Linked DNA regions of Homo sapiens: region 1 is linked to region 2. The links come from fine-mapping of genetic effects on gene expression. A gene starts in region 2. The other region holds a variant in brackets. All regions are shown on one strand. Distances are between the middles of the regions. Region 1 has its middle 35 kb from the start of SLC35D3. Region 2 holds the start of SLC35D3 (solute carrier family 35 member D3).

Region 1 (11,667 bases), 35 kb before region 2:
CACATCTGAACAGAATGTGCCCTTGCAAAGGGAGGCCAGTGACAGCATTTAAGTCTGTAATGTCAAAGAAAATCTCCAGTGGTAGATACACTTCCCTGGTCTCTTTTCCCTTAAGGATTATGAGATTTATATACCTAACGAGTCAGAGTGTGTTTTCTTTCTATGCAGTATCCCATATCCAAATAAATAATGAAATAAATACATAAGCACAAACACCACATGCACCTTTTGCCATTTACTGAGTCAGTAAGATTTTGACATTAGTAAGAGCAGCAATGAATTATGAATGTTTCTAAGAGAAATTTTTAATCCAGGAGGACTTTTTAAAAGGCACTTTTCGATTCTGGCCTAATAGATTAGTATAATCAAATAGCTGTTGTTTAAATTATTTAGTTATTCCCAACTAATATATAAAGCCCAACTGACAAAAACCAATTCTAAAATCCAGGCTGAAAAACTCCACTGTCTACGCTTCCTCATACTCCCCATTCAGTGGAAGATCTACACTGTCAACACCACATTGTGATTGTTGCTTTAGCTGCCACTTCCTGCAGCTGCCATCTGGCTGATTAGAAGTGGGGAAGGCCTATGGTGACAAGCCCTCGGGGCATTTTTCCAACCCTTTAGGAAACAGAAGGAAACGCTTGGGACTCTAATTACAGACTAATAAATAGTTCAAGCAGCCTTAAAAAGAAGAGGTTGTGGGTCCGAAAGGAGTTGATCCCTTCATCTACCATATTCCACACTCTCTCTTAGTGCCCCTTTTTCATTTTAGAAGATTCCCTATTCTTTTCTTTTTTGTCTTTCCTTTCTTTGTTTTTTTTAAGATGGAGTCTCACTCTGTCCCCCAGGCTGGAGTAGAGTGGCACAATTTCAGCTCACTGCAACCTCCACCTCCCAGGTTCAAGCAATTCTCCTGCCTCAGCCTCCTGAGAAGCTGGGATTACAGGCGTGTGCTACCATGCCCGGGTAATTTTTGTATTTTTAGTAGAGATGGGGTTTCACCATGATGGCCAGGAGGGTCTCAAACCCCTGACCTCAGGTGATCTGCCTGCCTCAGCCTCCCAAAGTGCTGGGGTTATAGGCGTGAGCCACTGCACCCGGCCCTTTCTTTCTTTCTTTCTTTTAGTTACAAATCTGAATGGCCAACCCATGGCCCCACTGTTAGAACCTAAGCATTTCTGCTCTGCATCACGCCTATGACCCTACCCAATGATTCATTTATGAGTGTCTATTATGCACCAGGTGTGGAACTAAATGATGGGAATTCAAAGACAAAGTAAAATCTTGCCTTGAAAGTACTTAAAACATAATCGATCCAATACCCTTCACTATCTTTATTTATCTGCATCTCTCTCTCTCTCTCTCTCTCTCTGCCACTGTTTATTTTGGCTCCATGTAGCCCAGAAGTTAAGAATACAGGCTCTGCGCTCAAATGGGACTCGAATCTCAGTTCCACCTTCCATCCCCACACGTCCAGAGTTCTTGTCCTGTTCATATGTTCAGTAACTTACTCATGGTCACACAGCTTTTAAGAGGTGGAACCAGAAAGGGACAGAGCCATGATCCAAAGCCAAGCAGTCTGACTTCTGATTCCATGCACCAAACTACAGTGCTTGTTAAAAACTGGGGAAAATATTTCAATATCTGTATCAGACGAACGGTTAATATTAAAACCTTTTCTGCTTTTCCAAAATACACACATGCTATTTTTCACTTAAAAATGTATAATGTAAAGTTCCTTCCAGGTTCTTACTATACTTTTTTTTTTTTTTAAGATAGTCCCACCCAGGCTGCAGTGCAGCAGCGCAATCTTGGCTCACTGCCACCTTCACCTCCCAGATTCAAGCAATTCTCATGCCTCAGCCTCCCAAGTAGCTGGGATTACAGACATGCACCACCACACCTGGCTAATTTTTGTATTTTTAGTAGAGACAGGTTTTGCCATGTTGGCCAGGCTGGTCTCGAACTCCTGGCCCCAAGTGATCCTCCTGCCTCGGCCTCCCAAAGTGCTGGGATTACAGGTGTGAGCCACTGCACCCAGCCTTAATATACATTTATATAATTATTTTAATAATTTAAAAATCCTATATACATGTAATCCATATAGTCCAGCTATACATATATGTATAGCATACATATACGTATATCTACAAATATATATGTATTATATCATAGTATTTATTATTTATATGTTTATAAATATATATTTATATATTTAACCAATCTCCATTGTTGAGCATTTAGGCTGTTAACAATTTTCACTAGTATAAATCACAGTGGCCATACTCCTGATAAACACAGGTATATCTATGTCTATTTATTTCTTCAGGATAAATACCTACAAGTAAAATGCCAGATCAAAGAATATTCACTTTCTAATACTTTTAAGAGCTGAAGCCCAAGCGCCCTTCGGGAAGCCTCAAGCCAACAGGATGTAAGAGCATCTGCTTCCACCACACCCTTGCCAATGCTGATAAAATTTTGTCAGACTGAGAAGTAGAAGCTTTTCAAATATCTGTTTCTATTGATTAATAGTTGAACATTTCTTTGTTAGGTAATAATCATTTGTAATTCTTTTGCAAATTGCCTTTCCTGTTTTTTTTTCTAATAGAGTTTTGAAATTTTTCTTATCGATTATAATTTTTTCCTTATTATTTATATTAACCTTTTGTCTGATACAGATGTTGAAATATTTTCCCCCAATTTTTAATAAGCTTGGTAATGGAGAATTTTTTTGCCCTATAAAAGTTATATGTGGCTGGGCACAGTGGCTCACACTTGTAATCCTAGCACTTTGGGAGGCTGGGGTGGGCAGATCGCTTGAGCCCAGGAGTTCAAGACCAGCCTCAGCAACATGGTGAAACCCAGTCTACAAAAAATACAAAAATCAGCTGGGCATGGTGGCATGCGTCTGTGGTCCCAGCTACTCCTTCTAGGGAGGCTGAGGTGGGAGTATCACTTAAGCCTGGGAGATGGAGGTTGCAGTGAATCCTGATCCCGCCACTGCACTCCTGCCTGGGTGACAGAGCGAGACCCTGTGTAGCAGGACGAGCCGCAGACAAAACTCCTCTGACACTGGGTTAAAGAAGGAAGGAGCTTTATTTGGCTGGGAACTTCAGCAGACTTGCATCTCAAAAGCCAAGCTCTCCTCACTAAGCAATTCCTGTCCATTTTAAGGGCTTACAACTCTAAGGGGGTCCGTGTGAGAGTGTCCTGATGGATTGAGCAAGCAGGGGGTACTGCATGCACCAGTAATCAGAACAGAACAGAACAGGACAGGGATTTTCACAGTGCTTTTCCATACAATGTCTGGAATCTATAGATAACATAACCGGTTAGGTCAGGGGTCGATCTTTAACTACCAGGCCCAGGGCGCGGCACTGGGCTGTCTGCCTGTGGATTTCATTTCTGCCTTTTAGTTTTTACTTCTTTCTTTGGAGGCGGAAATTGGGCATAAGACAATATGAGGGGTGGTCTCCTCCCTTACCTGTACCCGCCCCCAAAAAAGAAAAAAATGATATGTGTGTGTACACGAGGCAGGATATTTGCCTGACCCCTTTGTGGGACTCGAGACAGGGGTGCATCGTTTACTCAGCCCACAGCTCTCCACTCCTCACAGGAGGGAGTGCACGAGCAAACAAGGCGGGGACTGGAGTGCACGAGGCCTGGAACTGGCCAGCCGCTTCGGCACCAGCAAGAGCAAGCTCTGTGCGGGCCCCATGGCAACATCCAGGTGGGGGTGCCTGTGACACCTGGAGCCCCAGAGGGCGTGTTACAGTGCTCTCTTAGCTCTGCTGTCCTCTGATGGCTTAAGTGTTAACAGCTCAGTGAGCCCTTTGCCTCGTCGTGTGAGACGACTGCCCTCCACCAGCGAGGGCAAAGGGCCAGTGTGACAGCCTTTTATGTCCACACTTGTGGCTCCCAAGCTCTTGTCTGGCATCCAGGAAAAATGAGGTCGCATGAACGAATTGAAGGATGGTAAATGCAGGGGATTTTATTGCCAAGGAAAGTGGCTCTCAGAGGAAATGGGAGCTGAAAAGGGGATGGGGGGTAGGTAATCTTCCCCTGAAGTCCAGCCGTCTCCTCTCAGTGGAAAGGGGAGCTGAAAAGGGGATGGGGGATAGGTAATCTTCCCCTGAAGTCCAGCTGTCTTTGGCCAGATTCTTCTCCAAATTCTTCTCTGAAGCTCAAGCTGTCCCTCTGAAGTCAAGCTGCTTCTCTCCAACTTCCAGCCCTAGACCCCAACGCCCAGCTGCTTCTCCTCTCTGTTGGCTGAGTCTGGAGTCTTCTATGCACAGGATAGGGGCAGAGTGGGCCATAGGTAGTTTAGGGAAAGGCAGCATTCACATGGGAAAACAGGGATAGAAGTTCTCACTTTGGACCACGGGTTTCAGGCTTTTTGGCTTGAGGGTGAGATTTCGTCAGGGACCACACTTTTCTGCCTAGAATTTCTCTGCCCCCGTCCCTATCATGCATATAAATGGCATTCTCGATGCCAAGATTATACCTATGTTCACTTATATTAGGATTGTCGTGCAACCACCAGAAGCATGACTGACATCAATAGAGGGAAATAAGGCATTGTAACCTAACCAGATAGAAATATGACTAAATTGAAGTATTTCCACTTTTTAAATAATAACTTTATTTAATTTTTAATAACTGAAAAGATGGGAAAGAAGCAAAATATCAGACTCATCAAGAAATGATTCCACAGATCCTTATCTGGCAGCTCAGAATAATTGAGTGACTTGGCCAAGGTCATGGTATTAATGGATGAAAGGGATTTGAACCATGACCACCTGGCATCAGAGTCTAAACTCTACATCATTTAACTTCTCTGAAAAACTAAGTCCCTTATTCTATCCCCACACCCTGTAGTTCATCCTTACTCTATTCATGGCTTTTAAGAGCTGAAGCCCAAGCGCTAGAGCCCAGAGCTAAAAGAGCACTGTAACAAGCCCTCTGGGGCTCCAGGTGTCACAGGCACCCCCACCTGGATGCTGCTTAATCGCCTAGATGCTTACTCTGGCCGGAGAAACTTTGACTTCACCTGTGGATGTCAAGCTCCTGCAGGTTCTTAGGAGCGTTCTGGTTGTTGGCAAGATTGCCTTCCTTTGGGCTTTTTGAGTTGCCGGCTTTGGTGGTGAACCAGTGCATTGGCTCCTGACTGCTACTTACTTTTCAGGGCTTAGTGAAAAATGACAATGTGGGGTCCCTTTTGCAAAAACCAAGAGAAAGGATTTTTCTTTCTCCCCCTCACGGTTTCTCTCTTGCCCCTTCCTGGTGCTTGTAATTTGCTATGTAATGCCACACGCCCACCGGCACAATACTGCAAGGTGAGTGCAGATCCTCAGAAGCAAGGGGTTGGCGTGGGGGGCAGGGGGTGAGCATGCGCATGAGACCACCAGGGCCTGCACTGGGGCAGGGGGTGGTTGCAGTGGGGGAACCTGGAACTGGGTGGGTGGATGGTGGGGGAACCCGGGACTGGGTGGTCGGGGGGAGCCTGGGACTGGGTGGGGGGTGGGAGGGGAGCCTGGGGCTGCATGGGTAGGTGGTAGGGGAGTCTGAGAGTGGGTGGGTAGGTGGTGGGGGAGTCTGGGACTGGGTGGGTGGGTGGGAAGGGAGCCTGGGGCTGGGTGGGCGGTGGTGGGGGAGCCTGGGACTGGGTGGGTGGATGGTGGGGGAGAGCCTGGGACTGGGTGGGTGGGTGGGGGGGTGGAAGGGGAGCCTGCAGCCAGGGCCAGGAAAGGCAGGGGGGTGGAAGGGGAGCCTGCAGCCAGGGCCAGGAAAGGCAGGGAGGTGGCGGGAGGCTCCAAGGTCCCAGCTTCTGCTCCATCATCCCATTAGGACTTCACTTAAAAGACACCATGTATTCAAAGATAAATCAGAATTCCAAGACGGTGGCTGCAGACATTGGGAGTGCGGGGCCCCCTTCTGGGCTCAGAGGCTGTGTGCCAGCACTAGTCGCAGGCCTATGCAGCCGGCCCTGCCCCAGCTCCTCTTTCTCCATTGCAGTGCCTCCTCCTTGAGCTCCAGTCGGCCTGCATTGGGCCGTAATTAACTTTTTTCTTCCTCCCCTCCTAACCACCCCAGCCCACAGCCCACAGCCCAC[T/AGCCCACT]ACCCACAACCACTGAGCTGGCTGAGATAAGCACAAACAGCCACAAGGAAAGCCAAGAGGCCCTTCTGTGTGAGGCCGACTAGAGTCCCAGAGTGCATTCCACTTAATTACCGGGAGAAATTCTCTAGAACTGCTTTGGATACTATTCCTAGAACCAATTAGCCCGAACCTTTCATTTACATGCAACTCGAAGATGCAAAAACAAATAACTATGGTACTGTATTTTAACAGCTTAAACAGCTCTGTTTGTTTAGCTAAAACAGATGAATAGCTTTCCAAAAATACACAGAAGAGCACTTCCGGCCTGATGAATGCATAACAATGACAGCTGCGAAGTCACAAAGGAAGTACCATTTAGGTGGCATTTGCTAACAAGTTGTATTTTAGGAGAGAAAGGAAAAAGTTAACATAATTAAAGTCAAAGCCAAAGTAGAAACCTTTTCCCATCTACTCGATTTTATAAATTAACAACTTGATTAGCAGTTTGAAATATGATCTGGTTGCCATCAGCCAGGAGCAGGGTAGAGCATTTCATAAGGGAAGGCTCCATCTCAGAGGACTTTTTTGACTTTACATTTAAATAGAAATTATATACATGACATTATTCTATAATTGTGTGACTATAACATTTGCTTTTGCTTTCATAAAGATATATGTTAACAATGGGATACAGGCCGGGCATAGTGGCTCACACTTGTAATCCCAGCACTTTGGGAGGCCAAGGCGGGTGGATCACATGAGGCCAGGAGTTCAAGACCAGCCTGGACAACATGGCAAAACCCCATCTCTACTAAAAATACAAAAAAAAAAAAAAAAAAATTAGTCGGGCATGGTGGCGCATGCCTGTAGTCCCAGCTACTAGAGAGGCTGAGGTGGAGGTTGCAGTGAGCTGAAATTACATCACTGCACTCCTGAGATCACGTCACTGTTTTTTGAAACAGAGTGAGACTCTGTTTAAAAAAACAAAGAAACAAAAAAAAAAAACCTATCAGTTACATATATATGCTTAGGAGCCATATTTAGAAAGCAGAATTTCTACAAATAGGCAGGTGAGTTTCTCAATTCCAGTGAATAGTTAAAAGCTATGCTAAAAAATATAAAACCAATTTTCAAATATTTTTATTTTAAAATTATGTGCTCAAAATAAGTTAAGAGTTTCATGAACTTTGAATTCATGCAAAGATTTTAAATTTTTATTTTGTTGTTTTACTTCTCATGTCTCATTCAAAGATGGCTTTTAAATTTTAACTTAATTAATTTTCCACGCAAAAAGCCTAATCTTACCAAGGATGATTTTGAATTACATTGGTAACAATGTAAACCTGATAGCAAACATTTCTTGCTATTAATAGAGATCTGTCAATTTGCAAATGAATAGACTTATCCGAGAAATGGCCTGTTTCTGAATGACACTCGAGATGTTCATGTGTATTACACACAAAATAAGGTTACACACAAAATAAAGACCCTTAGCCATTTTGAAAGTGCTGAGAGATAGTATACTCCAGTTTAGAGAGAACTGAACTACATTATTCCAGCTCTAAGGACAGTTTAATTTAATTTGGGAAGAGGAAGCAACATTTGCAGCTAAAACAATGTTAATGATGGAAACCGGGGACACAGAATCAAAGTGCCCAGGCTTTATCTTAAGTCCTCTCCCCTTTTTCCAAATTGTCCCCTTCCTATCTTCTGATCTTCACCTGATTTATAAACCTTGAATTCTAATCTTAATTCCTTTCTTGATTAAACCCCTGAATAAAAATCAGCCCCTCCAACACACTGTCTCACAACCAAACATGTATTATTATTTAGCCTGCTTTGGTGTTAATTGACAAAACAAAACTCAAGACAAAAACACTGGGTTCTAAATGTTGTGCTGGTGAGAGTGAGTCAATGGTCAGTTTATAACACAGAGGGGCCAGCCACAGTCAAAACTGAATTAACTCTTGTGTGCTCTTTCAGTTCTCCCTTATTTCCCTACTTGACTGGTACTCCCTTCCTCTTCCCCCACAGCCCTCTCTACACCCTACTCCCATCCTTGCCCATCCTATCGTTCAAAAGAGTTCTTACCACCTTTTTCATTAATGCATCCATCATGCCCTACATTGGTGATCCTCAAAATAGGCACATGTCGTATTATGGAAATCACTTCCCAGATCCTCATCGTCCTTAGGAGCTTCTGCCTAAAACCATTCTTCCTGAGAAAGAGCCTGTGTGTTTCAGGTGTCTTGCTGGTTCTCTGTTCCCATCTCCCCTTTCACAGGCACCCTTTCTTCACAAGAATAAAAAGGAAGGCACCCATCTCATCTACCAGGACTTGCCACCATGGAATGCCTCAGGGCTTAAAAGCCTCTGAGGTACCCAAAATGAAATTAATCTGAAATCCTTGTGTTGGTGTTGAGACCATAAAAGACTCCAACAACTGGGTAACAAATCCTTTTCCAAGTCAAGTAGCTTCCACCTATTTGGAGGAAGGGCTGATAAATCATTAAAAAATTTTTGGCTAGGTTCGGTGGCTCATGCCTGTAATCCCAGCACTTTGGGAGGCCAAGGCGGGTGGATCACGAGGTCAGGAGAGTGAGACCATCCTGGCTAACACAGTGAAACCCCATCTCTACTAAAAATACAAAAATCAGCTGGGCGTGGTGGTGGGTGCCTTAGTCCCAGCTACTGAAGAGGTTAAGGCAGGAGAATTGCTTGAACCCGGGAGGTGGAGGTTGCAGTGAGCCGAGAGCACAACACTGCACTCCAGCCTGGGCAACAAGAGTGAGACTCCATCTCAAACAAACAAACAAAAAAATTCACAATATATCACCATATGATTTTGTTAGGACATAACTTGGAGAAGTGAATGGCTTTCCTACAACAAAACACTTCTCATTTCCAACTACTTATTTTAGTGAACAAAGTTTCTCAACACTTACATATGTAAAAATGACAAATATGATGAGAATTGGAATGTAACCCTATGCCTTTCTGATTTTACTATCATTTGGTCCACTAATGCACTAGCAATATACCAGTGGCGATGAGATGTTGTCTGAGAAAGCACATTTCAAGGCCAGTGCACACTAATTGTTCAAAAAGACCCATGACACAGAATACTTCTCTTTATTGTGTCAGAAATGTTATGAGAATTGGAGCTGAACCCTATCTTTTTCTAAGTAATATTCATCCATGAATATATAAAATAACTTTGTTTTTTGCTTTTTTAATCCTGCTCCTCCTGCAATGAAATAACTTTTTAAATGCCCTATCTTGTTAAGAGATGTGGTTCTAATGGAATTGTATCTTTATATTTAGTAACTACTAATACTTGTAATATAATGATGTTGAGGACCTATGAGTACTAATAACAATTGTAATGATAACTAAATCCAAAAGAAAACCTTTAAACACTTGGAGTCCTATGGTCAAAGAAAATAGAACATCTATTTCAATTTATATACATATTTTTGTTTCAGAAATATATTTAACATTTTTAAGCACAGAAAATACTAGGATAAAATTCTATTGGAGAATGAAATTGAAATATGATTTCAAAGAGTTTAAGGAAAAAGAATAGGGTATAAAATTTCTCTCTCATGTCTACCTGTGCCTTTCTTATCATTATGCTACGTAGCCTCCATTGAATACATTAAAAATAATTTAACAATGTTATTTTAAAGCAAAAGTGGAAATTACCATCCTTTGCAATTGTGTAGATTTAAGTTGAATTTTTTTAATATCAATTTTTAAATGTTCAAAGAATACATAGCATTTAAAAATCCTCTTTGGGGACACACAAGCAAAAAATTTTAAGCCCACTGCTCCACCTCATTCCAGTGCACACCTCTTCCCTCCCCAGCGTTGCCATCAATAAGGTTCTGCTTTCAGCTATGGTGCAGTAGTTAGGAGCACAGGCTTTTGAGTCAGAAGGACGTAGGACCAGGACCAGGTGAGGCAAGCAAGGACCAAGGGTGCAAATCTTGAGACACTCATCTCCGGTTCAGGCTCACATCAACCCTGCACACACATGCACAGATCAGAGAGTTTGCCTCCCTAAGTGTTGCACTCTAGGTGCCCCTCTTGCCTCACCCCAGTCTCTTCCACTTATTACTGAGTGATCTCAGTAGATTATTTAGCTCCTGTGAACCTCAGTGATCCCCTTAATAAAATGGGGGAAATAATGCTATTGTCCAGAGTTGCAAGAGAGGATTAAATTAGAGAGCATGCAGCGAACTTGGCAAAGTGCCCATCTGTGGTCGCCAGTCAATAAGTGGTTGCTCTTTATTCTGACACCAAGGAAGTGTCTGATAAACAGTTCATAATGAGACAATGATCACTGGATGACTTAATGGATTATCATTCCCAAAAAGGTTGATTTTAGGAGGCCTTTGGAGAGGCAATATTTCTCTCTCTCTCTCTCTCTTTCTCTCTCTCTCTCACACACACACACACACACACACACAGAGCCAGAGTGGCCGACCGGTTAAGTCTGTAGGGGATAAAAGGTAATACATCTTTTCTTCACCACCGTGAGGTTTTCGACTGACACCCCCATAACGAAGGACAGATTAACAAGATAAAAGCATAACCAATTGCATTTAACCTAAGTTTTATGTGACACAGGAGCCTTCAGAAGTAAAGACCCCATGACCTAGGAGACACTGTGTGTTTTATGCTTAGGTTTGATGAGGAATTGACAGCATGTAGAAATGTGATTGGACAAAAGGGTGTGATCTCATGGTAATAGACTGAAGGAGGGATCCCAGTAAGGCCTGTTTGTTTAGATTTTTCTTGGTCCGGTTGTAGGGCAGGACCCTTCTGGAATGAGGGTTTTGTGGCCCAGTGTCAGGCGAGGTAGGTCAGAGAATCCCCTATGACCAATGCTCCCGGGAGAAGGTGGCAGAAGCCAGAGTGACCTTGCTTCAGTCATTTTCTCCATCGCCAAGGTGCCGTATTTTGGGATGCGTTCTGAGCCTTAACAGGGCTCTCCTCCTTTCCTCCTGTCTGTCTTCTGCTTACACTCCTATGTGCCCTCTCTGTGCTTGGGAAAATCCCTATCTTTTTTTTTTTTTTTTAATCCCTGTCTTTCAAAGCAAACTCGAAAAGGGCAGGAACCTTGCCTTTCCTTTGCAATTAGCGTAGACATAGGTTATAAGCACTCAGTCTGCATAATACTTTAGCATAATTATATTATAGTACAATATAACCTAACAACATGGTCTCCAAAAAGGCACTATTATGGAAATAACTAACATGTGTAGACAGGGTTAGCCTCCATGTGGGTTCAGTGAATAATTCTGTGAAAAGCCTAGTGAAGATTTAATAATCTCCTTTCCTGCCCAACTATTAGTATCTGCCTATAGAATCTGTACCCACCCTGAAGCTTCCAGTTACCAAACACTTAGTGTGGATCAGGCAGGGCAACCTACAGGATGCAGAGCTGAGGAAACCCAATGCTTGCCTGCAATTACCTTAAAATTGAAAGGATATATTTAATTTCTTCTCTTGGCTCTTTATTTTCTCTTTTCTAGCTTCACAACATCAAAACTGGTATTCTCATT
Region 2 (11,667 bases):
TTCTGATTGATCTATTCCTCAATAATCGAAAGCTAGGCCCAGGCACAGTGGTTCATGCCTGTAATTCTAATGCTTTAGGAGGCTGAGGTGAGAGGATTGCTTGAGACCAGGAGTACGAGATCAGCCTGGGTAACATAGTGAGACCTTCATCTCTTTAAAAAAAATTTTTTTTAATTGCCCAGGCATGATGGCATGCAGCTATAGTCCCAGCTACTCGGGAGGCTGAGGTGGGAGGATCACTTGAGCCTAGGAGTTTGAAGCTGCAGTGAACTATGATTGCACCACTGAACTCCAGCCTGGGTGACAGAGCAAAACCTTGTCTCAGTAAAATAAAATAAGGCTAGACAGCATTTAGTGGGAGGGGGCCAGCAACAGGCCCAGCGTTGAGAATGTCTGTCTGACATCATGCTGTGTTTTAGAGACAGATTCTAGTTGGGAAGTGACAGGTGAGCATGAGGCTGGGCCTCAGCCATGAAGAATTGATATAGGAACAGGCTGTCGAAGCAGGGGCCCAGTTGGGCACTAGGTGGGGGTGTAATCTCAGAAACAAGGGAGAATCCAAGTTGTCAGAATGGGGTAGACTGACAAAGACTGGATCAGTCTAGCAACAATGGTGAGTGACTTCCAGTGGAGTCCCACCCATGCGAATATCCTGGAGCTCCTCAGAAGGCCCCTGCCTGCTTGATGCAAGGCCCTACCAGAGCCCTGACTCTGGTCAGGGTGGACCAGAGTCTTGGATTGCCTCCAGTACTACTGACAGTGGAAGAAGGATTACTTTTATGTGTCAACTTGGCTAGGCTGTGGTACCCAGCTGTTTGGTCAAATAGTAGTTTAGATGTTGCTGCAAAGACATTTGTAAGATGCGTCATCCAATTAGTTGAAGGCCTACAGACCAAAGAGCAAAGTTTCCAGAAGTAGCAACATCAATTCTGCCTCAAGACTGCAACATGGAAACCCTGCCTGAGTCTCCCACCTGCCAGCATGGCCTACAGACTTCAGACTGCCCCATCATTACCACTTACTTAAAATCTCACTCTCTTATGGGTTCTGTTTCTCTAGAGAAGTCAAATACAGCGTCTCTACAAGTTCATTGACAGGAAAGAGTTAATCCTTTTGCTATAAAGGTAAACTCACATTTTTAACCAAAGGACATTTTTTTTTTCAGTAAAAAACAATCATTCCACTTATCTGGCAGTGATAGCCACAAGAAATATATACTTCATCCAACTTTGCTGCTTTTCATTAATTCTCAGCTTTATATAGTTGCAACGCGATGTTGCCCTTTGGCATGTTAGCATTAAAATTAACACTTATTTTTGAAGAAGTCATCATAACCCTGGCAAACCATTTCTAACTGCAGTATGTGAGGTCTCCTGCATCTTAAATGGCTTGTGGAGGCACCTCTGGAAATAGTCAATTGCCTGTGGAAACCAGCAAACCAGGGCCAATCACAAACCACAATTACACTTGCTCAGCTGCTTGTGGAGCCAAACTGATGGAGCTGAAACTTCATTTTTGCTTCTGCTTTTTGCTTTGATTTGATTTTTAGAAAAGAAAGAAAAATATAAGATGCTACTATCTGAGAATCTCAGCAACATGCTGGCAGATCTCAGTGCCCCCTCACTCTCAAAGTATCTCTCCTGCCTAGAGCTCACAGAAGGCTTCCTCCTTGGTGGACATGACCATTTATTACTTCTCAGACTCCATGTTAACTGAAATCTGGTGTGGATGGCTTTCGTACCTCAGTGCGATGGAGTGTTTTATCATTTTCTGTTTATTTGTTTGTCCTGTTACCAGGCTGTAGAGCAATGGCGCGATCTCGGCTCACTGCAACCTCCACCTCCCAGGTTCAAGTGATTCTCCTGCCTCAGCCTCCCGAGTAGCTGGGACTACAGGCGCGTGCCACCATGCCCTGTTTGTTTGTTTTTGAGACGGGGTCTCGCTCTGTTGCCCAGGCTGTAGTGTAGTGACACAATCAGAACTCACTGCAGCCTTGACTTCCCCGGCTCAGGTGATCATCCTACCACAGCCTCCTGAGTAGCTGGGACTACAGGTGCACACCAAAATTCTTGGCTAATTTTTGGTATTTTTTGCAGAGATGGGGTTTTGCTACGTTGCTCAGGCTTGCTTGAACTCCTGAGCTCAAGTCATTTGCTTGCCTTGGCCTCCCAAAGTGCTGGGTTACAGGCATGAGCCATTGCACCACACCATTAACAGCTTCCTTCACTGGAAGATGCATTTCTGTTTTTGTTGTTATTTCAAACCAAACAGCTTTGTTAATTTAGGAAGTTTCCAATGGTGCGGCCCCTACACTCGGATACTATGACCACACATTGGAGGCAAACACAAACAACTATACAGCAACAATAGAACATGTGTCTAAAATAAATTTCTAACAATGTATCCTTTAATAGTTAGACTCATACTTTATTTTGACAAATTTAAGATAGAAAAATATCATAATGTGAATATAGCAGTTGCTCTTTTTGTAACATGGTTTGGGATGTGCAGTGAAACTTGAAAGGACTTGCTTTACAGGTGGTCCCTCTTCTGGCTGGGTTTCAGTTAATTCTGAATTATATTCCAGCCATTGCATTTGCTTGAAAGAATATTGGACACAGTAAAAAAAAGAACAGGTTTGGCATTCAATAATAAATATTATAAAGCAATGAACCAAAACAACTTTTAAAATAATTACTGAAAGCAAACTTCAGACTTCATGATTAAAGCTAAGAACTCATATTTTCAAAATAGCTTTAACAGTTTCTATCAATATATAATACAATAATAGGACACTTATTTTTAAAAAACAAGTGAGTAGAATCAGAGTAAATATGATATTTCAGATGACTATAAACAGTAAACATCAATTCAATATATTTATATATCATTTCAGCAATATACTCTTTGCCCAGCTGGCGATAAAAACTGTAGTTCTATCATCAAAAAATGCATCCCTGAATGTCATCTTTGAACTTACTAAGTGCTGTCATCATTTCTACACTCCATCTTTGGAGGGGGTGGCTTAGGGACTCTTGGTACATGCAGATATTTAGTTATGGTTATAATGACAAAAAGTAAATGTGCCAGGAGTCTGAAGCAGAAACGTTGCCTTACTTTGTTAAGTAGCTTCACATTCTTTTGTCTCTGTGATGCCTCAGGTGAAGTCACACTAAATAATTCACACAGGTGCTAATTTTGTTGCTCTGTGTCAGTACCTTTCAGCTTCTTTCTTTTCTTCCCTTCCCCACTCCTCAAAGAATAAAACGGGGAGGCCTCTCATTAAAACACGTCATTTCTAACATATAAAATAAGTGTATGCACATAGGTACGTACATGCACCTCCTTCTCAAGGACTGGGTAACTCCTCGTTTTCTATCAAATAATCCTTCTTCATATACCTGGTTCCCCTAACCAACCTCCATACCTCGAGGTAAGCATCTTTTAACGACCTCCTGCTCCCTTCTTCAGAGCTCCCAGCCACCAGCGGGACTCCTCGGGGGCTGCCCCTGACCTCTTGCCTGCTCTCCTGAGCGGGGCCACCTGCTGCCTCCCCACCTTCTGACCGGCCATTTCCTCCCTCCCCGGGCAGCTCCTCCATCACGAACGGCAGCTGGTCTCCACTTAGCTGCGCCTCCTCTCCCCGAGGCTGGGCCTCCAGGTCCTCGTAGTTGCTTTGCTTTCTGGTCTCCATGAACTTGGCCACACAGTAAATGATAGAGCCCAGGGTGTTCACCACCACGCCGGCAATGAACAGAGAGGTGGGCTCCACGTCGCTGAAGGCCACCATGCCCACCGTGATGGTGGCGATGCTCTTCACCACACCCACGAAGCTGGTGGTCACGGCCGAATTGATGTAGGTGCAGTGCAGCGTGGTGAAGTTCATGGCGCAGCCGATCAGGATGCAGGCCACGAAGATGCAGACCATGGCCGGGTCCTTCCAGCCCGGGAAGGTCCAGGCGTGGATGGAGTCGGTGCTGGCGAAGGAGCAGATGACCAGCAGCGGGGTGGCAGAGACGGCGATGACGTACTGCGCGGTGAGCGGCCCGTGCTCGGTGTCTGCGCTGGCCTTCTGGATGAGCACCAGGTAGGCAGCGTGCACCAGCACCGCCAGCACTCCCGTGACGTACCCGATGGGGTCGCCCGTCAGGTCGCCGGCTCCTGCGGCGCACGAGGAGGACGGCCGAGCCCGGGCGGGAAGGAAAAAGAGAGAAGACAGCAGGTTGGCGTGGGCGGGGACCCACGGGGAAAACGCGTCGGGTAGGAAAGGAGACTGGGTTCGCGCCCCAGCTCTGCCCACCGGATTCCTGAGTGACAGACGCCCGCCGTCCCTCGGCCACCCGTGTCAAATGCGACAGCCAAACTCAGTGCTCAGAGCGCCTTCCCGCCATATCCCCGGGTCACTCCATCTTCCTCTGTCCAAGACAAAGGCCCCGGAGAGCGCAGATGCCCTCGGGGCAGGTGCTGTGGCTTCCCCGAGCTGGCACCGAGGTCACTTGGGCGCGTGGTACCTGCACCCCGGAGCCCCTGCCCCGTGGGGCACCAAAGGGAGAGGGAGCCCCAGCCAGTGGCCTGCAACCCGGAGCGGGCCAGGCGCGGGGGAGAACGCCTGTTCTGGCCCCCAGTGAAGCTTCCCCCTGCCCAGGCTCTCGTCTCGCTCAGCACCTGGGTCGTCTGCCCCAGGGCCGCAGCCCCCTGCGCAGCACGAGACACCCCGCAGTAGCCCCGGGAACCCTCAGCTTCGCCCCCATCCCCCACCTCCATTCCAGCCCCTCGTGACCCAAGGAAGTTCACGGCCCCCTCCTTCCGGCTTGGTCCAGGCTTGGAGGACTCCAGCTCCCAGGCTCAGGCGGCCCTCCCACCTCTCCCGGAGAATGGGGTGACAGGGGAAGACCAGGAGAGGGGGCGACAGGAAGGGCGATGCCGGGTGAAGCATGGGCGAGGGTCGGAAGCCAGGACATTAGGGGGCAGGGGGACTTGGTGGGGCGCTGGGGAGCTCTCTGGGTCTCGGAAGTCCCTTTTGCGAGCTGAGCGACCACTCTCAAAGCTCTCCGGCTCTCTCTGCCTCAGTCTCCCCATCTGGAAGTGAGGTCGTTGAACTCAGTGATCCCCGCGGTCTCTGCCCGACGGAGCGGGGTGGGTGGGGTCGGCTGGGGGTCGGCGCGGGGGCCCGCTCACCTGCCAGGGCGGCGCCGCAGGTGGTGATGAGCACCGCCGCCAGCACCCCTGGCGAGGGCGCGCCGTTCTTGAGCACCAGGACGCCGATGAGCATGGTGACCAGGGGCAGGCAGCGCTTGAAGACCACGTACATGGGCAGGCTGAGGCCGCGCAGGGACCAGAGCGTGAGGCTGGACTGCAGCGTGGAGAGCACCGCGACCCCCGCGAAGGAGCGCGCCAGGCTCAGACCGAAGGGGGGCACGGCGATGAGCCCGAGGCGCCGCAGCAGCTCCAGGCTCAGCGCCGCGGTGGAGCTGGTCAGGCACTGCACCAGGGTCAGGAAGGAGAACTGGTAGCGGCTGATGAGGAACTTGAGCAAGATGTTGAGGGAGCCCGAGAAGACCCCGTGCGCGATGGCCACCGAGATGCCCAGCACGCGGCCCCGGCACAGCTGCCGCATCGCGCCGGCCTCGCCGCACCCAGCGGTGGCGGAGCTCCGCGACCTGCGCGCGAGGAGCCGGGAGCAGCGGAGTGAGGGCGGCGGGGGCGCCCGCCCAGCGCGGCGGCGAAGGGCAGGGGGCGCCGGCTCGGCTGCAGAGGGCAGCTCCGGCCAGGCGTTCTTGCGGTTAGGCAGCTCTGCGTCCGACTGCCCCGCAGCTCCGGGGAGGCAGTGACGAGGGCGGGGGACTCCGAAAAGTGGCAGAGGTGGCGGGGGGGCCGGTCTGAGAGGAGTGGCGGGAATCCTAGCGACAGCTATTTGTAAGTGGGTGATGAGCCGCGGTGGGTTGTGTCCCGCGCGGTTTCACCGTCAGGGAAGACGCTCTGCGGAGGGAAGCGGGCGGCTGGGCGCCCCGGGGCGGCTGCCGCAGGGCGGGACGGGGGCTCTTGGGGCGCGGCGCCCCTCTCCCCCCACAGAGCCAGCGGCTCTCGCTTGCCCCTTCCTCCTGGCCGAGGGGCTTGGGTTGGAGGGATCGGGACACAGCTAAAGATTTTAGAAACAGCGCATCAGGATCGAGCGCCGTTTATTGGTCGCAACAAGTGACGGCGCCCCCAGCCCCCTCGCCCCGGCGCTGCAGCGGCTTTTTCCACCCACTGTCCCTCCCGGTGCAGCGGCGGGACCTCGTCCAGCTGCCCGCCAGGGAAGCGAAAACCGTCGGTGCCGGCGGGCCCCCGAAGCTCCCGATCCCGGCGACGACGCCCGGGCATCGGAGGAGGAACCCGCGGCCCGGGGCGCTGTCCAGGGGGTGCCTCGGAGCCCGGAAGCTGGCTCCTTCCGGTGCCAGGCCACGCGCACCGCTCTCCGCACGCCTTCCAGAGAGGGTCCCGGGATTATGCGCGCGGCTCCGGGGAAGCTTTCAGGGGGTTCAGTGGTCTCGCCCAGCAGCGGGGCCTGGTGGCGGGGACACATTCGAACTGAGGCAAAGATGAAAATAAGCAAACGCGCAGAAACGAAGTCACTAACACGAGTAGCCACCACCAGGAACCGAGGAGCTCGGGGGCGACGCTTCCCGAAGCGTGGGAGGGGAGGCTGGCTGCGCTCGCAGAATGGGAGAGTAGAGGGGGAGGGGGCGGGAACCCGGGGCCCCTCACCCTGCAGGGAGACTCCGCGTGGCGTTCTCCGGATCCCAGGGAACTGATCCCAGGGAACCCTCACCCTGCGGGACCGTCGTGGGTTGCTTTCGGAAGCAGGACAACCGGCAGGCGGAGGGCGGGGAGAGTCACCACCTCCCTGGGCCAGGGTTCACACCTTTGCACCACAGGACTTGTGAACTGTGTGTTTCCTATATGACTAAGAGAAAAAGGGAATTCTAATTTTGGAGAGGGAGTAAGGCTTCGGTAACTCTTTGTTCTGAATTCAGTTCCCTGGAAAGTAACTCGCGCGGACCTGTAGTTAAATCAGCAGCAGCCAAGGGTTTCGCTCAGCCGAGGTAACCGTTAAGCGCCAGACAGTTTGGTTTTCAGGCGATTTGAAATTTGTGGCCTTGGCCAGGGTTTGGCTATAAGGGAAAGGTTCGAGATCGCTGCGCTCCAGCACCCCTTTCGTTCACCACCAGCAGTTTATTTCTCTTAGCCCCGGGAATCGTAACCTCCTAACCTTTTAGCGCTGCATCACGTTGCCTTAATAGACAGGATCCATTTCTCTCGTGGTTCTTCTGTTTTCTGCCTCTTACTTCCACCTCTGTGCTGAACGCGACACTTCAGCCAAAGTGCTGAAGTCGTGATTTACCGCAACAGAGGAAGAAAAAAAAATTACAGCAGGGATCAGCAGCATCACAGCAGCCCTTCATTTGGGCCAGCATTTGGGGCTCTGGATGCTCACTTTGGTGAGCTCTAGAGAGCTCGGGGTCAACCAGTCCACCAGCTTATGTGCCCGGTGCCTAGGAGGGCCACGTCCCTGCTCCCGACAGGTGGGCACTCAAAAAAAGTTTGTGAATGGCCCAGGGTGCCAACTTTCCAGGAATAGCTGGAAAGCATTATACTGAAACACGTGCTTCCGGTTCTCTGGGGAGCCCTTGGTTTTTGTTGCTAAAACTTGTGGTTACACACTATTGGCTGTTTAAGTGACTCTGTTTTTGTAGAGTTAATGTTATTTAGGAAATAATGAAGTCTGAAGCACCAGTTCAAATTATGTGTATGTGTGTGGTATAGTCAAAATATATTGATTCAAAACTCTGAAAATTAACTTTTTACAGATATCAGCAAATAACAGATTTCTGCTTCTAGAGACTATCCCAATAAAAGCATGGCTGCTTTAAGCCATCCTAAGTGCATATTATTAATATAAAGAAGTGGCTGCACAAACCTACTTTTGGAATGATTCATTTCTGCCCGCAATTATAATTGCATCCATTTGTGATACTAACATTAGGTAAAAGATTTGGGGCTGATTCAGCTATCTTACTCTTCTCATTTATGCAAGACAATTTAGCTTAATATTTGAAACCTACAGAGGCATAAAACCGCACATTTTCTCCACTTTGTTGCATGCAATTCTTTTGGAAAGAAAAAAACCTTAACCCCCATCTCCCACAAAACCAGATACTAGATGAGCTCCTTTTAAAAATTGTGAAAAATTAAGAATACCATGTTTAGCGAGGTTAAATGATCTAGATGAATAAAAATGTAGATCTAAAGGTTAAATAGCTATTTGACCTATTGGTATCAGGGTACCAAGGGTCTAGACTCAAGCACATCACCTTTGGAGCTACTTAATAAATATTAATGACATTAAATAAATCCTTTAGTTTATCCATTCATTCAACAAACATATAGTACAAGTATTTTGTGCTAAGTATTCTGTTAGCCACAGAGGACTTAAAGATGAACACAGCGCCTTCATCCTTAGCAACAGTGGGATTGTGTGGCAGAAAAGGGGGGAGCGCCAGGAGGGCAAGTACATCAGCTTGACAGCAGTAGCAGACAAAGCTTCCTGGAGAAGGAATTACAGTGTCTTTGAAAACTTACTTCATTATTTCTAATTATAAAAGTAACACAGGCTCATTGTGGTACATAAAAGAAAAACAAATTTATAATTAAGTAAACGCGCTCTCTTCAGTGTTCACCATCCCCAACCTTACTACACAGAGCTTGCTGTGTTCAGTGTGGAAACTTTCAGTCTTTTTTGTATGTATGTTTATACACACGCAAACTCCTCCTTTAAAAAAATAACAAAACTAGGATATCATATATATTTGTCTATAATTTCCTACTTTAAAAAGCGTATTATGGTAATTAGCCTTCTAGATAGTCTCCAGTGATACCCGCTTCCTGGTATTCACACCCTTATGTTAACTCCTCCCACGCTGTACCAGGGTTGGTCTGTGTAGCTAACAGAACCTGGCAGAAGTGATGACGGTCACTCCTGACTTTAGGTTATACTGAGACTTCCATCTTGTATGTCCTTTTTTCTCTTGTATCATTGAGTCTGGGGAAGCCGAATGCCACATTGTAGGGACATTCTGCCTATGGAAAATCCCATGTGGTTGAGTAATTGAGGCCTGATAACCATGTGAATAGCTGTGATGTCATGAGAAAACCTGAGCTCAAACAACTCAGTTGTTTCTGGATTCCTGACCATAGAAACTGTGAGATGATAAATGTGTGTTGTTTAAAACTACTAAGTTTTGGAGTGATTTTTTACATAGAAATAGCATATTTTTTCAAATGACTTATTCTTTTCAATAACTGTTCTACAGTATAACCTTTCTGTTGACAGGCATTTGGGTTTTAGCAAACGATGTAATGAATACCCTTGGACATAGCCATACTTCTACAGGTATTTTGGGAAAGGGGGAGAGAGGGAATCCTAGAAGTGGAATTGCTGGGTCAAAGGGTAATTTAAAATTTTGGCCGGGTACGGTGGCTCATGCCTGTAATCCCAGCACTTTAGGAGGCCAAGCCAGGTAGATCACTTGAGGTCAGGAGTTCAAGACCAGCCTGATCAACATGGTGAAACCCTGTCTCTACTAAAAATACAAAAATTAGCCAGGTATGGTGGCACGTGCCTGTAATCTCAACTGCTCTGGAGGCTGAGGCAGCAGAATCACTGAAACCGGGAGGTGGAGGTTGCTGTGAGCCGAGATCATGCGGCTGCACTCCAGCCTGGGTAAAAGAGTGAGACTCCATCTCAAAAATAATAACATAAAATAAAATAAAATAAAATCTTGATTTGTTACCAAATTGCCTTCTAACAAAGCATATAACAGTATTCTCACTTTAACCAATACTAGATATTATCAATATTTTTAATGTTTGCCAAACTGACAAGCAAAAATAAAAAGGGATCTCATTTTTAATTTGCATTTATCATTGAGACAGTCTGACTGAAACTTTTTGAAATGTAGTAAACATTTGTCTCTCCACTTCTGTGAATTATTTATTGATATCCTTGTCCAATTTTTGTCTGGTTGTCTTCTTAGTGATTTTTTTTTTTTTTTTGAGACGGAATTTCGCTCTTGTTGCCCAGGCTGGAGTGCAATGTCTCGATCTCAGCTCACTGCAACCTCTGCCTCCAGAGTTCAAGCGATTCTCCTGTCTAGGCCTCCTGAGTAGCTGGGACTACAGGCGTGCACCACCACCTTCAGCTAATTTTTTATATTTTTAGTAGAGACGGGGTTTCACCATGTTGGCCAGGCTGGTCTCGGAGTCCTAAATTCAGGTGATCCACCTGCCTCGGCCTCCCAAAGTGCTGGGATCACAGGCGTGAGCCACCATGCGCAGCCTTCTTAGTGATTTTTAAGAGCCCTTTGTAAAGTTTGGCTATTAACCACCCATTCTATATAAGTTGCCAGTATATCCTTTTGTTATGTCCTCTTTTAGCTTTGCTAGTGATGTGTTTTGCAATTTTAATTTTTGTATGTTGTCAATCTTATTCTTTAGTTATTTAATGGGATTTTTATTTATTTTTATTTATTATTATTATTTCTTGAGATGGAGTTTCCCTCTTGTTACCCAGGATGGAGTGCAATGGTGCAATCTCAGCTCACTGCAGCCTCCGCCTCCTGGGTTAAAGCAATTCTCCTGCCTCAGCCTCCCAAGTAGCTGGAATTACAAGCACTCGCCACCATGCCTGGCTAATATTTTGTAGTTTTAGTAGTGACGGGGTTTCACCATGTTGGCCAGGCTGGCCTCAGGTGATCCACCCACCTTGGCCTCCTAAAGCGCTGGGATTATAGGCTTGAGCCACCACGCCCAGCCTAATGTGACTTTTAAATTATGGGTAAGAACTTACCAAGCCAAGAGCAGGGCAGTCCAGGCACATGGACCAGCTGAAAACTTGCATCACTTACATGAAGAATTTGTGAGCACACTGGTTTTGTGTGAAGAGAAGCGGTGCTGCAGACAGAGGCAAGGGCTATCCCCAGAGGACCCTGGCTGCTTGGTTAGTAAGCTTGAATTTTTCCCCATAGGTAATCCTATAAGCAGAGAAAGGTTTTATACTGAAATTGATGTAATCAGATTGCATTTGAGATCCGTCTCCGGCAGCTGTGTTGAGGAGGATGGCTCTGAGGACACAGAACTGGAAACAGACACACCATTTAGGAAGCTGCTGCAATTGTCCAGAGAAAAGCTAATGATGGCTTGAACTGGGGCAATGGTGGTTGGATTGAGGGGAAGAGATATAAGGGAGCAGTGATGAGGGGGTAAAAAGGATCTCATTTGATGTGTGTGGAGAAGTGGGAATAAGGGAAGGACCAAGGATGGTGTTTAGGTCTTTAGCTTGACCCAAATGGATCTTTTGTTAACAGCTTGACTTTTGACAACAAATGAAAAGGCATGTGTAGGAGTAAAAGCTGGGTTAGTAGGCAAGTGAGTTTGGTTGGAACAAAATGAATGCAAAGGCTTGTGGGAAACCCAGGTGGGGAAGGTAGGTGTACAGATTTGAGAATATTATTAACATGAAAGTAAAAAACAATTAAGTGGATCAGCATATACAAGGAAAAGCCTGTTAAGTAAAAAATTCGAGTTCATTTTTGGAAGAGCCAAATTATTGCTAAGATACACAGTTAA

Evidence for each region. PIP is the estimated chance that this variant, and not a neighbour inherited with it, causes the effect.
Region 1: its variant is fine-mapped to the expression of SLC35D3 in whole blood (INTERVAL, PIP above 0.99).

Annotation. Positions count from the first base shown.
Region 1 is chr6:136,951,752-136,963,418 of GRCh38, reverse strand. No RefSeq gene overlaps it. Among named protein-coding and RNA genes, the nearest start is that of SLC35D3, 35 kb to the right of the region's middle. RefSeq lists enhancers at 4,590-5,156, 6,293-6,861 and a silencer at 5,834-6,128. The variant T/AGCCCACT (reference allele first, on the strand shown) is at 6,119.
Region 2 is chr6:136,916,379-136,928,045 of GRCh38, reverse strand. SLC35D3 (solute carrier family 35 member D3) reads right to left here and starts at 5,745. Exons shown (of 2, transcript NM_001008783.3): 1 at 5,179-5,745; 2 at 2,386-4,161. The coding sequence starts at 5,617. The coding sequence ends at 3,350. RefSeq lists an enhancer at 6,217-6,723.